Linked DNA regions of Homo sapiens. The protein of the gene in region 1 interacts with the protein of each later gene in a pairwise test. Each region holds a gene or a part of one and is shown in the gene's direction. Other genes may lie near its edges. The genes, in order: PEX11A and HACL1.

Region 1 (4,321 bases):
ACCTGGCCTTCTACATCATTATGAGGGTCTATTTGTCAATGTAGGAAAACAGACTATATTTTACTTTACAATTTGTTGCTTGATTTATAACTAAAATATTTAAACATACGGTGTGCTGGACTCCATTTGTACTCTTACCCAGGGCCTGCAAATGTTAGGAGCTGGCCTGACCAAGGGAATAAAGATTACGAAAATGTTCACCTTATTTTATTTTATTTTATTTTTTTGAGACAGCGTCTCGCTCTGTCGCCCAGGCTGGAAAGCAGTGGCACAATCTCGGCTCACTGCCACCTCCGCCTCCTGGGTTCCAGCGATTCTCCTGCCTCAGCCTCCCGAGTAGCTGGGATTACAGGCGCCCACCACCACGCCCGGCTACTTTTTTTGTATTTTTAGTAGAGACGGGGTTTCACCCTGTTGGCCAGGCTGGTCTCCAACTCCTGATCGCAGGTGATCCGCCCACCTCGGCTCCCAAAGTGTTGGGATTACAGGCGTAAGCCACAGCACCGGCCGACCTTATTTTGTGGTTATAGAGGGTACATTTTATAAAATTACTGCCACGGAGTGGGTAAGGCTCCTTTTCTTCAAGCCGCACAGAACGAATGTTCAGCGGTGCAATTTCATTGCAATCTATTTTTGCTTCACTTTGCTCATAATGACTCTTTTAGGATTTCCTCAGGTAACAATCTTCTTTCAATGTTCAATAATCCAAGCAGAACATTTTCTCACTTCATCCGCCTCCCATGCTAGGTTCACACTGTGAAATTGGCTTATCTCTGACCTAACCACTTCCTTCACCAGACATAGAGCTGGTGTAGCTCAAGGGAAAGAGGCACGGCGCTGGGAAATGATTAGGCCCCACCGTCCCAAGCAAGAGCTCAGGGGAGTTCTGAGGCTGGAGAGACCATTCGGGATATCACCCCGGGTTCCTGAGAACCTGAGATCTGCGGGGAGGCGTCAGGCATCCGGAAACGCCCGAGTCTGGGGAGACGGACCCCCTCAGACTTTCCTCTAGGAGACTCTACAGGTAAAGGGGAGTCCTGGGACTCGAGGGGAGCCCCGGCATCCAAAGGTAAGATCAGTTTTGCTCACCTGGCCGGGCGGCGTTGCGTCGCCTTGGTAACCACAACTTCCGGCTTGAACCGGAAGTCCGCGAAGTTGCTCTACAGAAAGTGTGCCCGCCCCCTCTGGGGCGGAGAGACTCAGCCCCTCCCCCTCAGCGGATAACCTGGGACTGACCGTTCCCTGGGGATCCGACGGGCCCCAGAGGACCCACGCCTGAGCCCCGTGCGACTCGTGGCCTTTGGGCTAGAAGCCATGGACGCCTTCACCCGCTTCACCAACCAGACCCAGGGCCGGGACCGACTCTTCAGGTGAGTCAGGTGCCAGCGGCCTCCGCCCCTTTCTCGCCCTAACTCGGCTCCCGTGCCTATTCCCCTGCACCCGGGAAAAAGGAGGTGATAGCCTAGTAGATGGAAGCAGGAAGGACGTTGCCAGCTCCTACGGAGGGAGTTTAGTATCCGAGCCCCTCCTTACCCTAAATTCAACGTGAGTGGGCCCAACGCACCCGCGTCCCGTCCTAGCCCCGTGCACGAAAGCCCCAGTGCCTGGCACCCTAGCCGCCTCGAGACCGCCGACGACGGGACACCGGCTGACAGATCCTCCTCCCCTCCTAACTTTGCTCTCCGGGCACAGAAAGATTGGTTCTCTCCACTCAACATTCTTCCGAGGGATCTCCTTTAAAGAGAAACTTTGGATTAGTATTTGTGGCTAGGGAAGCAAACCACTTGGTGTGACTTCAAATATCTCTCTTTTTTTTTTCTTTTGAGACGGAGTCTCGCTCTGTCGCCCAGGCAGTGGCGCGGTCTCGGCCCACTGCAACCTCTGCCTCCCGGGTTCAAGCGATTCTCCTGCCTCAGCCTCCTGAGTAGCTGGGATTACAGGCGTGCACTACCACGCCCGGCTACTTTTTGTATTTTTAGTAGAGACGGGGGTTTCGCCATGTTGGCCAGGCTGGTCTCGAACTCCTGACCTCAGGTGATCTGTCCACCTCGGCTTCCCAAAGTGCTGGGATTACAGGTGCGAGCCACCGCGCCCGGTCTCAAATACCTCTTGAAATGTTTGAGGAGAGACAGAAGTTCTCTTCCATTATTACCCAGGCTGTATCATTGAGATACTGCATGTGGAATAGTTTTGTAAATTGTAAAACAAAATATAGCGGGGATGAGACCACACCAACTGGATTGGGGGGAAATACAGTGGGGAGAAGCTCAGAAAGAACTAACTGCACCTCTAAGGTTCATGCTGTGCTACTGAAAATATTAAACAGAGATTGTGTCTCTTTTTCTTTTGGTTCCATAAGAAACGAAAAGAACTGAGAGATTGTATCTTTAATACGAATACAGTACTAGTTCATGATGTTTTAGAGATTTGGTTGATTCTTGCTTAATGAAAAAATATTTACAGTTGCAGTTTTATTTAACAGCTCTGCATTCTCTTCTGGGTGTGCAAGTGCTGATACAAACAGATCAATTAGAATGGCCCCAATAATGAGGCTTTTGGAAGCCATCTTTATGACAGCTATTGTTCCCAGTGTTTTGCAACTATGAACTTATATAACCCTCATCACAACCCTATGAGGTAGATACTCTAAATATTTTACCCACTTCAGATGGAGAAACTGAAGCAGAAAGAGGTTAATAGGTACTACAATGGCAGAACTGAGGGATTCACATCCACGCAAATGACTCCAGTGCCCACTTAACTACCAAGCTATACTGGCTTTCTCATTAGTTTGATAGGTTTTTTAAATGGTTACTTTATATACAAGCTTCATTAAATAGAAATTTCATTAAATAGAAACCTGTAATTCCAGTGTACCTAGAATGTACCCTGCAGGGTTTATCAAGGAAGTTGGTTAAAAAAATAATCATTTAGGCCGGGTGCAGTGGCTTACACCTGTAATCCCAGCACTTTGGGAGGCTGAGGTGGGCGGATCACAAAGTCAGGAGATCGAGACCATCCTGGCTAACATGGTGAAACCCTGTCTCTACTAAAAATACAAAAATTAGCTGGGCGTTGTGGTGGGCGCCTGCAGTCCCAGCTACTCAGGAGGCTGAGGCAGGAGAATGGCATGAGCCCAGGAGGCAAAGCTTGCAGTGAGCCAAGATCACGCCACTGCACTCCAGCCTGGGCAACAGAGCGAGACTCCTTCTAAAAAAAAAATAAAAACATTAAAAATAATAATCATCATCATTTAGGCCGGGTTCAGTGACTCACACCTGTAGTCCCAGCACTTTGGGAGGCTGAGGTGGGCAGATCATGAGGTCAGGAGTTCGGGACCAGCCTGGCCAACATGGTGAAACCCCATCTCTACTAAATATGCAAAAATTAGCTGGGCGTGATGGCACATGCCTGTAATCCCAGCTACTCAGGAGGCTGAGGCAGGAGAATCGCTTGAATCCGGGAGGCGGAGTTTGCAGAGAGCCAAGAACGCACCACTACCCTCCAGCCTGGGCAACAGAGCGAGACTCTGTCTCGAAAAATAATAATAATAATAATTTAAGATATGTTTATTCCAAAAGATCTGAGATCTCTAGCATTCATTTCCCAACCTCCTTGATGATCTGTATAACCTTTATGACCACACTGGCATTCATAAAATAATACCTTGCTTTCTGTGCCAATAATGCTCATGCAAACACGGTGAACATTCCTAAAACCTGTCAGACTGTAAGAAGTGTGGCAAGCACCAACCCCACAAAGTGACATAGTACAAGAAGAGCAAGGATTCTCTGTATGCCCAGGGAAAGCAGCATTATGACAGGAAGCAGAGTGGCTGTGGTGGGCAGACTAAGCCGATTTTCCAGAAAAAGTCTAAAACTACCAAGAAGTTTGTGCTAAAGCTTGAGTGTGTTGAGCCCAGTGAAGATCTAAGAGAATCCTGGCTATTAAAAGATGCCAGCATTTTGAACTGGGAGGAGATAAGAAGAGAAAGGGCCAAGTGATCCAGTTCTAAGTATCATCTTTTGTTTTATTATGAAGACAATAAAATCGAGTTTATGTTCACTTCAAAAATAAATAAATAAAAGTAATGTCTTACTGTTGGCCTGATCCTTATTATTAGACCAAAGCTCAGAAAGGCAGAATCATTGACATGACCAGTCCTGTAACCAGGAAGGACACTTAAAAAAGAGAAAGCGATTGTTTATGATTCCAGTCTTCTCTTTTTATTTCATTCCTAGTAACAAGTTCACTATTTTAGAAAATGAAAATGTACCGCATTTTTATTGAGAATAATATTTATAGCATAAAGGGATTCAAA
Region 2 (3,830 bases), on another chromosome or scaffold:
AGAATAGTTTTTTTTCTGTGATAAGGAACTTGTGAATTTGAACCTGAAAAAAATAGGCCATCAAGTAACACTATTGTCACTGTTTTCTGCCGCTTTATTTACATATGACAAATATTTTAATCTTTTCATTTAGCTTGGAAAGCATTTAAATTATAGTTATTAATTAATGCCTTAATGTAAAAAATGCTAGAACAATGATTAAGAGAATGGTTAAAAGTTCATACTTTTTTTTTTTTGAGATGGAGTCTTGCACTGTTATCTGGGCTGGACAGTGCAGTGGTGCAATCTCGGCTCAGTGGAACCTCTGCCTCCTGGGTTCAAGCGATCCTCATGCCTCAGCTTCCCCAGTAGCTGGGATTACAGGCATGCACCACCACACCCAGCTAATTTTTGTATTTTAGTAGAGATGGGGTTTCACTATGTTGGCCAGGATGGTCTCTGTCTCTTGACCTCATGATCTGCTGGCCTTGGCCTCCCAAAGGGCTGGGATTACAGGCGTGAGCCACCATGCCCGGCCGAAAAGTTCATATTTAAAACATTTTTGCTGTTTGAATGAACTTCTGGAGCTGCACTGGCAAGTATAGTAGCCACGAGCCGTATGACTTGTTTACATTTAAATTAATTAAAATTAAATAACATTTAAATCATAGTTTATCAGTTTGTAGTAGCCACATTTCAAGTGCTCAGTAACCATGTCAGTAGTGGCTACCGTATCATACTGCAAATGCAGAACATTTCTATTACTATACAAAGTTCTGTTGGATAGTACTGTTCTAGAAGTTTAGTTTACTTGGTGGTAATTACTTATTTTCAAGTCTGTCTTAAACAGAAATTTTTAAGAAATTATTTTATAAGTGTAAAATGGTGAACTGAATTATATTGAGATACCTTTTTCCCGAGTGGTTTAAGCTTAGAAAGTCACACTGAAGGGTAAAACATTCAAGTTCAATATTTATTTATTTGGAGTCTCACTCTGTCGTCTCCATGCTGGAGTGCAGTGGCACCATCTCGGCTCACTGCAAACTCCACCTCCCAGGTTCCAGCGATTCTCCTGCCTCAGCCTCCCAAGTAGCTGGCACTACAGGTGTGCACCACCATACTCAGCTAGTTTTTATATTTTTTAGAGACAGGGTTTCATCATGTTGCCCAGGCTGGTCTTGAACTCCTAGACTCAAGTGATCCATCTGCCTCAGCCTCTCAAGATGCTGGGATTACAGACGTCAGCCACCGTGCTCAGCCTCAAATTCAGTTTTAAAAGATTTTGGGGACCAGGCGCGGTGGCTCATGCCTGTAATCCCAGCACTTTGGGAGGCCGAGGCGGGTGGATCACCTGAGGCCAGGAGTTGGAGACAAGCCTGGCCAAACATGGTGAAACCCCGTCTCTACTAAAAATACAAAAATTAGCCGGGTGTGGTGGCACATGCCTGTAATCCCAGCTACTTGGGAGGCTGAGGCAGGAGAATCACTTGAATCCGGGAGGCGGAGGTTGCAGTGAGCCGAGATCACACCATTGCACTGCAGCCTGGGGAACAAGAACGAGACTTCGTCTCAAAAAAAAAAAAAAAAAAGACAAAAAAAAAAACACAAAACATTTTGGGCAGAGCACTGCATTCAGAATTACTTTCCTATCAAAGATCAGTCGACGTTATATTTATTTGTTAAGAAATGAAAAAAAAACCTTTTTTCATACAAAAATGAACTCAGCAGTCAAAAATTTGCTTCTGTATACCATTAACTTGATTTAGTCCAGATGTAGTCCAGATCAAAATAAGTGGTTAGAGACATAAGGTGTGAAAATGATAGGTACCTTATTTCTCACAAGAAATCCGATATCTTTCTTTTTTTGGGCCAGGCATGCTGGCTTATGCCTGTAATCCCAGCACTTTGGGAGGCCAAGGCAGGCAGATTGCTTGAGCCCAGGAGTTCAAGACCAGCCTGGGCAACATGGTGAAACCCCATCTCTACCAAAAAAAAATACAAAAAATTAGCCGGGTGTGGTGGCATCTGCCTGTAGTCCCGGTTACTTGGGAGGCTGTGGTGGGAAGATCACCTGAGCTTAGGAGGTTGAGGCTGCAGTGAGCCCTGATCATGCCACTGCACTCCAGCCTGAGCAACAGAGTGAGATGCTATCTCAAAAAAAAAGTGTGTATATATATACACACACGCACATATATATGTGTGTATATATACACACATATATACGTATGTGTGTATGTGTGTATATATACATATATACGTATGTGTGTGTATATATACACACACATATATGTATATGTGTGTGTATATATACACTTTTTTTGAGATAGCATCTCACTCTTGCCCAGAGTATATATGTACATATGCGTACATGTGTATACACGCACACATGTGCGTACATGTGTATACACGCACACATGTGCGTACATGTGTATACACGCACACATGTGCGTACATGTGTATACACGCACACATGTGCGTACATGTGTATACACGCACACATGTGCGTACATGTGTATACACGCACACATGTGCGTACATGTGTATACACGCACACATGTGCGTACATGTGTATACACGCACACATGTGCGTACATGTGTATACACGCACACATGTGCGTACATGTGTATACACGCACACATGTGCGTACATGTGTATACACGCACACATGTGCGTACATGTGTATACACGCACACATGTGCGTACATGTGTATACACGCACACATGTGCGTACATGTGTATACACGCACACATGTGCGTACATGTGTATACACGCACACATGTGCGTACATGTGTATACACGCACACATGTGCGTACATGTGTATACACGCACACATGTGCGTACATGTGTATACATGTGTATATGTATACAAGTGTATATACAAGTGTATATGTATACAAGTGTATGTATACGTGTGTGTATGTATACGTGTGTGTATGTATACGTGTGTCTACATGCATACGTGTGTGTATACGTGTGTCTACATGTATACACGTGTGTGTATACGTGTGTCTGTATGTATACATATATATAGAGTATACTCTGGTGCCCAGAGTATATATACATATATGTATACATATATATACGTATGTATACATATACACGTATGTATACGTATATATGGATCCATATATACACGTATGTATACGTATATACGTATGTATACATATATACACGCATGTATACATATATACGTATGTATACATATATACATGCATGTATACGTATATACGTATGTATACATATATACACGTATGTATACGTATATAGTGTGTATATATACGTATATAGTGTGTGTATATATACGTATACGTATATACGTATATATACGTATATAGTGTGTGTATATATACGTATGTAGTGTGTGTATATATACGTATATAGTATATACTATAGGTATATAGTGTGTATATATATACACTATGTATATAGTGTGTGTATATATACACGTATATACGTATATATACACTATATACATATATAGTGTATACACTATATACGTATATGTGTGTATGTATATATATCGCGATATATATATATCGCCTTGTTTTTTAATTAAAAATATTCTAATAATTGTTTTATCAGTTATAGTAAAGACTTGTATGTCCTTCCTTTGAAGTCCAAGATTGCCATGTTTCACACTAAAGTGTTATGAATCAGTTGTTACATTTGACCTGATTTTAATAAATTCTGTTTTGCTTTTAGGCCAGGAGTCTGCCTTGTTGTTTCTGGCCCAGGTCTCATCCATGCCTTGGGCGGTATGGCAAATGCAAACATGAACTGCTGGTAATGACATTATTATTACTGAAAACATTTTCTTAAAAAGGTCACTGCAGGATTTTACTGAGTAG

What was found.
Region 2: the proteins of PEX11A (region 1) and HACL1 come close enough for resonance energy transfer, tested with the Homo sapiens proteins (one large-scale study listed by BioGRID).

The regions. Positions count from the first base shown.
Region 1 is NC_000015.10:89,687,626-89,691,946, reverse strand, and holds the start of PEX11A (peroxisomal membrane protein 11A), read left to right. Parts: upstream 1-1,192; 5' UTR 1,193-1,314; coding exon 1,315-1,370; intron 1,371-1,533; exon of another isoform or gene 1,534-1,599; intron 1,600-3,666; exon of another isoform or gene 3,667-4,070; intron 4,071-4,321. UniProt on the Homo sapiens protein: May be involved in peroxisomal proliferation and may regulate peroxisomes division. May mediate binding of coatomer proteins to the peroxisomal membrane. Promotes membrane protrusion and elongation on the peroxisomal surface.
Region 2 is NC_000003.12:15,591,535-15,595,364, reverse strand, and holds part of HACL1 (2-hydroxyacyl-CoA lyase 1), read left to right. Parts: intron 1-3,684; coding exon 3,685-3,765; intron 3,766-3,830. UniProt on the Homo sapiens protein: Peroxisomal 2-OH acyl-CoA lyase involved in the cleavage (C1 removal) reaction in the fatty acid alpha-oxydation in a thiamine pyrophosphate (TPP)-dependent manner.